2 separate regions of the Homo sapiens genome follow, and region 2 is linked to region 1. Evidence: fine-mapped expression QTL. A gene starts in region 1. The other region holds a variant in brackets. All regions are shown on one strand. Distances are from middle to middle. Region 1 holds the start of MED21 (mediator complex subunit 21). Region 2 overlaps FGFR1OP2 (FGFR1 oncogene partner 2).

Region 1 (4,398 bases):
CTTTTCTATATCTTTGAAACTTTTAATAATATAAAGTTTCAAAGAAAGTACTCACCAAAATTGTGTGTTTAAAATATGAGATCTGTAATACTGGGTTCCTGCTCCTAAAACCATATAATCCAGTTGGCGATGCAACAGAAGCAAATGGAAAAGCATATGAGAAAGTGTCCAAATCATGAAAGGAAGAAAGGAGAGGTCCCTATGGACTCTAGCAATTCATAAAATTTATATGAGAAGTGTACAGCTTAAAAAGGTAGGGTAAGGATTAAATAGCAGGAAAGAAATTGCTTTGGGAAAGGTAAAGAATGAGGAAAGAGCTAGACCAGTGGTTCTCAATTGGGGGCAATTTTGCCCCCCAGCAACATTTGGGACTATCTGGAGATACTTTATGTTGGCATAAATGGATTGGGGGGATGCTACCGGCATCTCAGGGGTAAGGGACAGGGATGCTCTAAACATCCTACAGTGCACAGGTCAGCATCCCACAGCAAAGAATAATCTAGCCTGAAAAGTCAAGAGTGCAGCCATTGAGAAATCCTGAGCTAGATGCACAGACTATATTTGGCAGGTGGGTTATTCTTGAAGTCTACAGCTTCAAGAGCTTCCTAAACCCCTTTTCAAATGTAGGCTAAGTTGAGAGTCTGGTCTGGGGAAAGGGTCCACAGCTTTTATCTGATTCTTAAAAAGATCCGTGGCCGAAAGAGGCTGAAGAACCAGGAAAACCAAGGGGTCAGGGACCTTGGCTGAAACAGATTATTTCACTCAGAAAATTATCAGGAGGTGAGGCTGGGTCTGTTTGCTGGAGCCAGATTATAGTAAATCTTGAAAACCAGGCAGAGATAGTTGGACATCAACCTGAGGTCTCTGTGGAGGCACAGAAGACCTATTAGGAAGATAATGGCAGGACAAAAACTGTGTCACAATATGAATGTCTTGAAGTGGCTTCTCTACTTCAACTGCCCAAGTTCCCTTCAATCAGGCTGCAAAACTTAGTATTCTTATGGAGTGGACTAAACTATATCCAATCAGTCACCAATCCATATTAATTTTTTTTCTCAAAAATATATTTTAGTCTTTCTTTCCCCGCTTATCAGGGTCAACACCCTATTCTAGGCCCAGCTCATCTTAATCTTGGACAACTGCAAAACCTTCCTTAGTGAGTCCTTGGCTTATTCATCTTTGCAAATTGAGCACTGGATATACTTCCTGGCATGTGGCAGCCATTCCGTAAGGTACACTCTCAAGTGAGGGTGGGAGGAGAAGGTTGTAGAATCCCCCCAAGTTACAGTGAAAACAAATTACAGAGTGATTTCTCATTAGTCCCATTATGGGGAACATGCCTCATCCACGTTCTTAATGAGGCTCCAGTAAGTCTGTAGACTGTTTGGGGCTGAGGGTGGGGCATTGGTGTGAAGCAGAAGTGGTGCTTCACAGTAAGTGTTGGGATAAATCCAACAAGCTGAGTTCCCCAGGGACTGTGTCTTCCACCTTCCCCGCAGCCACAGGAAGGTAATCACGGATAATCAGCCTGAGAAAGAGGATATGAGAGTTTTTTGAAGTCTACAAACCTGTTATTTGCCGATTCCAAACTCATTTCTTACCAGACTATCCTCAGGCTAAATTTCCTTAAATACCAAGTTTCGATTATCACTTTTCACACTTAAACTCTCAATAAGTCCCAACTCTAAATCTAAATTGTGCAGCTAATTTTTCTTGGCCGAGCACGGTGGCTCACGCCTGTAATCCCAGCACTTTGAGAGGCCGAGGCGGGCGGAGCACGAGGTCGGGAGATCGAGACCATCCTGGCTAACATGGTGAAACCCCGTCTCTACTAAAAGTACAAAAAAAAAAAAAAAATGCCGGGCGTGGTGCGGACGCCTGTAGTCCCAGCTACTCCGGAGGCTGAGGCAGGAGAATGGCGTGAACCCGGGAGGCGGAGCTGGCAGTGAGCCGAGATCGCACCACTGCACTCCAGCCTGGGCGACAGAACGAGACTCCGTCTCAAATAAATAAATAAATAAATAAATAAATAAATAAAAATAAATATATTTACTCTTCAATTTGGTCAATAAATAAACACGAGAGGGTACGAGAAATTACTTAAAAAAAAAAAATCCCCGCAGAATCCAACAATCTCTGAAGCCTTTAACACCTAACAACCCCAAGGGGAGTATTTCGGCTCTTGGACTGTATTTCAAAGCGATTGGACCCCAGACCATTCCCCCAGTTACTCAAAAGATCCAGCCTCTCCTCAGGTGTAGCCCGCTCTAGAAAGGCCGCCTCGGGAGTACCACCCACTCCTGACGGGGCGGGGAGTTCTCTCCGACCCCACCCGTTCCAAGGACGCAGCCCTGTGATTGGCCATGACGCGTGCCAGAGCTGCCCAGTCGCGGAAGAGCAGCTGTTTTGGCGTCTGTTTGCTGCGGTAGGAACATGGCGGATCGGCTCACGCAGCTTCAGGACGCTGTGAATTCGGTGAGGAATTTCATTCGATTAGCCTCTGTCTTTCTCTTTCTTGAGGTAAAGCAAGGGAGGAAAGGGGCCCAAGAGGCAAAACTTGAAAGTGGGGAGCGGACTGAGAGACAGGGCTTCGGCATAAAGCGCTCTCTCGGGAGGCGCCACCGCGAACTCGGAGGTTTGAGGCCGGCTGCCGGGCGGTGCTTGAAGGTGCGGGAGGGAGCAGACTCTTTCGCTTGAGGAGACCGGGAAGATCGTTCTTGTCCGGGTGAGGCCGCCAGGACTTGTGGGCTGCGCGGTCCTGTCGTGTTCCCTGAGGACAGTTTTATTTTCTTGTCAGTGGTGCTTACGGGTTCTCTTTCTTTTGGGGGTTGGGAGGAGAAGCAGGAGCTTTTTTCTTTCCTCATCAATTTTAATCCACCAAGGGAGATCTCATGCTCTGGATGACTGGGTTTTTGTAATGAAATGTCAGCCGAGAGTATTCCTTCACCAGCGCTTTCAGGTTGGTGCGGGAGCGATGCTGAGGTGAGGTGAGAGATTTTCTTTCATCTTAGCTCGTTCCTTTGGGCCCAGAGTATCCTTCCATCTCTTGCCTCTTGGCCATCCCTCAGAATACATCAGTTTGGGGACATCTTTATGATAGGAAATCTTCTAATCCTCGTATGTCTTTCCGCTTATTTGAGTCTTTTTTCTTTTCTTTTTTTTTTTTTTTTTACTTTGGAGACAGTGCCTTTCGCCCAGGCTGGAGTGCAGTGGCGCGATCTCTGCTCACTGCATCCTCCGCCTCCCGGGTTCAAGCGATTCTCCTGTCTGAGCCAAAGTAGCTGGGATTACAGGCGCCCTCCACCACGCCCGGCTAATGTTTGTATTTTTAGTAGAGACGGGGTTTCACCATGTTGTCCAGGCTGGTCTCAAACTCCCGGCCTCAAGCGATCCTCCCGCCTCGGCCTCCCATAGTGCTGGGATTACAGGTGTGAGCCACCGTGCCCGGCCTACAAGTCCTTTTTAATGTCTCCCCCAAATTCTACTCTCTATTAAAGGCCAAGTCTAGTAAGTAGCTCCCCAGCTTTGTTCCTTCTGGTTATTTTTCCTCCACACTATGCCTGAGTGGAAAGTAGAAGCAAAGCCAGAGGATGCGCAGTCATGGGCCCCTAATGAAGGGGTCATGTTCTGAGAAATGCATGGTTTTGGCGATAACTTTTTTTTTTGTTTTAATAAGTAGAAGTACAATGTAAAATAACGATAAAACAGTAATACATAAACCAGTAACAAAGTCATTTAGTATCATTATCAAGTGTCATGGACTGCACATAATTGTATGTGCTATGCTTTCATACACTGGCAGTGTGGTAGGTTGATTTACAGCAGCATCACCACAAGCACTAAGGAACGCATTGCGCTACAGCGTTAGTACTGCTACGATGTCACTAGGCAATAAGAATTTTTCAGCTTTATTATAACCATAGGGGACTGACATAATATGTGCATCCCGTTGACCAAGACGTCAGTGGGTATTCCCATGCGGCAATGGGTGTACTTATTACCATTACGAGTTAGATTGTTTTCTGCTAAATAGTTTTCCATTGATAGTTATGTTTCTCATTGTCTGATTGTGATTTAATGTCCTAGATAAGGGGCTAGAGAGAAAACATGCTGATAGGAAAACCTAAGTACCTGGTTTCCTTGCCAGTTTTTTTTTTCCTCACTGTAAGCTAATAACTTGGCATTTTTCTTAATACATCAGAATTTGTACACTTGAAGAGTGTGAATCTACTTGTGATAAAACTGATCTACCCTGGGTGAATAACACTAGTTTTTAAGCTGAGAGGACCAGCCTCTAAGTGTTGAATTCACCAAGATAAATTCTACCCTGCAGGGACTTGCCTGGGCTGCCAGCCAGCCTTCCTCAGGGAACTACTCCTTTGAGGTTTTACGAAATCA
Region 2 (4,398 bases), 55 kb before region 1:
ATGCGTCGGAAAGTACTTCTTTGTCAGCATTAGTGACCAACAGTGATTTGAGTCTGAGGAAGAGCTGAAGAGTTTCTGAGTCTGTGAGCTTCTTACATGGCTCCAAATGGTCAAATAAGTGAATGAATGAATGGACAGAAAATTCAATCCTTTATTTTTTTCTCTGTAAATATGTACAGTGCACGGGCTATGAGATAGCAACAAAAAATGCATAGTTAATGGTCATAGACTTTATTCCAAAACATAATTGGAAAATAGAAACTGAGCCATTGCCAAATGGTAAAGAAATGAAAAGTTTTCACAGTGACTACTGAATATACCAAGAGCTTTTGGCAGTACTGCTGGCTTTCTGGGTGATTAATTAGGTAAACTTGAATATTCCCAGTAAATGTTTGAGAATGCATAAAATTATACCAATTTAAAAATATAAATTTTTGCCACTGTTTTGTGAACGGAGGATTTGTACGCTAAATTTCATCCTTATTTGGCGTCAAAGTTGATGCAAAGTTTATGTACCATGAGACTTCTAGTGATTGCCTACTTTCACATTTATTTAAATTTTTGTGAAAGAAAATACAGTTTTAAAGGCTATAGGAATGTGTTATATGTACCTTAAACAGATAATTTAATTTTAGCAATTTATCATAACTGATACTTAGCTAACAATTGTCCATAACTTGTTTAAGTGTAAGAAATACCATTTCAGGAATGAAAAAGAAGGAATACTACTTTCTAAGAAAGAAGATCTTATAATAGACATATTTAGTAGGTTAAACTACTCCTTTGAAAGAATAAGTTTTGGTTCAAAGTCAATAATGAAGACGAGATTTGTTTTTCTCTTCTCTGGCTGATTTTTAAGGATATTATGTAGTTCATTTAGTTAACAGAATTGAAATGTTTGATATGGCAAGATAGGTATGGTAATTTCAAAGTGAATTGGGAATTCCTCTGGCTCATAGAACCCTTTTTTTTTTCCTTTAAGTATTCTTGAGATACAAAAAAAAAAAGTAAATACAATTTCAAAAAAAAAGTTCCGGATCTGTTTTTAAGCTCCATCTGGTCCTCATAACCTGCAAGATTTTTCTTAAAACCTTTCAGCTGAAAGTGGGGGTAAAGGTGGAGTAATCTGTGGATTTGTTTCTGTTGTCTTTTAAAATGTCAAATATATAATATGTAATTTTTTTAAAAACCACCAGATACAGAAATGTGCTTTAACATCAGTTGAAACCTAAATTTTCTTATGTTGTGGTGATTGTATTAAAAAGGGATAAAAGAAGAGTGTCAAACATGGTTAAATATATTGTACTCATTTATGTTGAATACGTATTAAAATTAAGACAAATGGAAAATTATACTTTGAGTATATAATTTGTTAAATATTACTTTATATGGTAATTTTATGTATAATTTCATATATTGGTAAAATTCAAAACTACACTTGAGAATTTTTTTATCTTAAGTTTGGGGTGAATGGGGTGGATGAGACTGATTGAATAGAAAAGGGCTAATGGCCCAAACATTATATAGATTTCTTTTTTTCAGTCAGAGGCCTTATTTGATATTTTATAAATAAATGACAGTTTTTATTTTTAAACTTTTTATTGTTTTTGGGAAAGTATTCCTTAATTTAATGACACATTCATTCAGATACTTCTTATCCCTGCTAATAAAGGAAATCTATTTCAAGCTACACCATTGAGATTAAGTCTGAGGCAGTTCATTGAGGCAGCTCTACTATAAAAGCTTACTTGATAAATAATTATTTTTGTAAACAAGTTGGGTTAACTTATTCTTCGTCTTTTTGCTTGGATATGAATTTAAGGTCTTCATGTTTAAAGACATTTACTTTGTTATTTAGTGACACATTTCCATCCTATTTTTTTTTTTTTTTTGGTTGTTGTTAAACAGAACCTTAAGTTTATGTTTGAGGTATGTACTGCATAGGAACCTATTTTATTATTAAAGATGAATGATTAAAATTGGTATGGTCTCCAATTTAATTTGAAAAGTGCTTACCC[T/G]TATTCTTATATATGGTTTAATTTTAAGGTTTTTTGTCTCTTCTTAGTGCAAAACTACTTAGCAGTGACCTCTATCTGTATTCCTTAGGAATTAGCAGCTTCTTAGTGTGGATCCTGCAGAACTTCTTACCATTTGTAGTAGGTTGAATCATGTCCCCTAGAAGGTAAGTCTAAGTCCTAACTTGATACACCTGGGAAGGTGACCATATTTGGAAATAGTCTTTACAGATGTGATTAGGGGATCTCAGGATATAATTACCCTGGATTTTGGGTGGGCTCCAAACCCAGTGACTAGTGTCGTTACAATAAGAGAGGAGGAGATATGAAACACAGATATAGCAGCATGAGGACAGAGGCAATGAGTTACGCAAGGACTGCTAGCCACCACCAGAAGCTGCAAGAGAGGCATGGAATGGGTTCTTCACGGGCTCCAGAAAGGACCAAGCCTGCTTGATTTCAGACTTCTGGCCTCCAGAACTGTGAGGAAATAAATTTCTGTTGTTTTCATTCACCCAGCCTGTGGTAATTTGTTAGAGTAACCCTAGGAAACTAAGACATCTATTGTTTTTCATCTATCAACTATATTTTTATTTTATATAAGAAAGTTCTTAAAAACCAATTTATAACCTCACAATTTCTGCTCTAATTTTATATTCTTTAATATCAAGGTGACTTCTAAAATTTTATAGAAATAAATTGCTTCCCTGTAATCCCAGCACTTTGGGAGGCCGAAACAGGTGGATCAGTTGAGGTCAGGAGTTCAAGACCAGCCTAGCCAACATGGTAAACCCTGTCTCTACTAAAAATACAAAAAGTTAGCCAGGGATGGTGGTGGGTGCCTGTAATCTCAGCTACTTGGGAGGCCGAGGCAGGAGAATCGCTTGAACCTGGGAAGCAGAGGTTGCAGTGAGCCGAGATCTCACCATTGCACTCCAGCCTGGGCAATAATAGTGAAACTCCATCTCAAAAAAAAAAAAAAAATTGCTTCAATGAAAAATGGACAATCGTAGATCCATAATTTTGGTGGTCACTACCTTTTTTCATTGTCAGAGTGAAATAGGAGAACATTTTTTAGTAAAATACTGATGAAGATGATAATTTCTAATTGGAATTTGAGGAGACACTTTTTCCTTTAACCTCTCTGGCTGCTCCTCAGTCTCCTTTGTTTCTTCTCGCTGACCTCTTAACATTAGAGAGCCACTGGGCTTAGTCCTTATACCTATTCTGTGCAGTGTCTCTACTCACTGGTGATCTCACCCAGTCTCATGACTAAATACCACCTCTATGCTTGATGGCTCCTAAATTCACAGTTCCAGCATAGACCTCTCACCCCGGATTCATGCAGCTGTGACTGTCAAAGAGAAATTTTATGCTTAAGATGTCCAAAGCCAAACTCCAAACCTCCCAGAACGCCTCCATACTCTTTCCCATCCTGCTTGATGACAACTCCATCCTTGCAGTTGCTAAGGCCAAAAACCTTGGTGGCAACTTTGACTCCACTTTCTCATATCGTGCATCCTATTCATCAGCAAATCCTGTTGTTGGCTCTTCCTTCCAAATAAATCAGAATCCTACCATTTCTCTCCTCCACTGCTACCCCTGGTCAAAGCTACATTATGGTAGTGTTAAAGTATACAAATTGGATTCAACCTAAATATCCTACAGTAGGGGAATAGTTAAATGTCAATATTCACTCAATACAGTTGATTACAGTCTATGGCTTGAAGATGCTAGCAACAAGAAGAAAAAAGTACCTAAATATGCATTAAAAAGCTTAACATAAATTACCCATATAATTACAAATATGTAAAAATCAGATGCATACGGGGAAATGTCCTGAAGCAAACAGCATCAGTATTCTTCCAGCTAATTGTACTGTTTGCATTAGCCAGTCAGTTTCTGATGCCTGTAAATCAAGCATTTTTGTAGCTACCATTATGGAGTTGTAATTTATTCATCAGTTCCCCCAACTGATGGATAGTTTGCAAAGTTTAATACAAAATAATGCAGTAAACATCCATATACATAACTTTATTTATTGTAATTTCTAGCGTGCAAATTCCCAGAAGTTTGTTAGGTCATGTTTTGTTATTTTTTAAATGAAAAAATAAATGTACACTGTTAAAAATCTTAGCATACTAAAAAATTTACAATTCAGAGTAAACCTCTTCCTACAACCTCTGTCTTTCCAGAGGTCATTATAAGTTTCTTGTGAATCAGAAAACCTGTTAACCAAAAAAAGTGACTGAGGCAAGTGTCTTAAATCAGTAGAGGTTTATTGGGCCAAAGTTTAAAGACATGCCAGAGAAAAAACGCAAGCCACATGAGCATCTGTGACCTGAGCTTTCTAAAGAGGGTTTTGGAAACTCATTATTTAGGG

The links. PIP is the estimated chance that this variant, and not a neighbour inherited with it, causes the effect.
Region 2: its variant is the best candidate, but not a certain one, in a credible set for the expression of MED21 in cerebellar hemisphere (GTEx, PIP 0.57).

What each region holds. Positions count from the first base shown.
Region 1 is chr12:27,020,147-27,024,544 of GRCh38, forward strand. MED21 (mediator complex subunit 21) reads left to right here and starts at 2,412. Exons shown (of 4, transcript NM_004264.5): 1 at 2,412-2,475. The coding sequence starts at 2,434. RefSeq lists an enhancer at 2,444-2,733.
Region 2 is chr12:26,964,666-26,969,063 of GRCh38, forward strand. It overlaps FGFR1OP2 (FGFR1 oncogene partner 2), which reads left to right. Exons shown (of 7, transcript NM_015633.3): 7 at 1-1,983. The coding sequence ends at 68. Among named protein-coding and RNA genes, the nearest start is that of FGFR1OP2, 28 kb to the left of the region's middle. The variant T/G (reference allele first, on the strand shown) is at 2,019.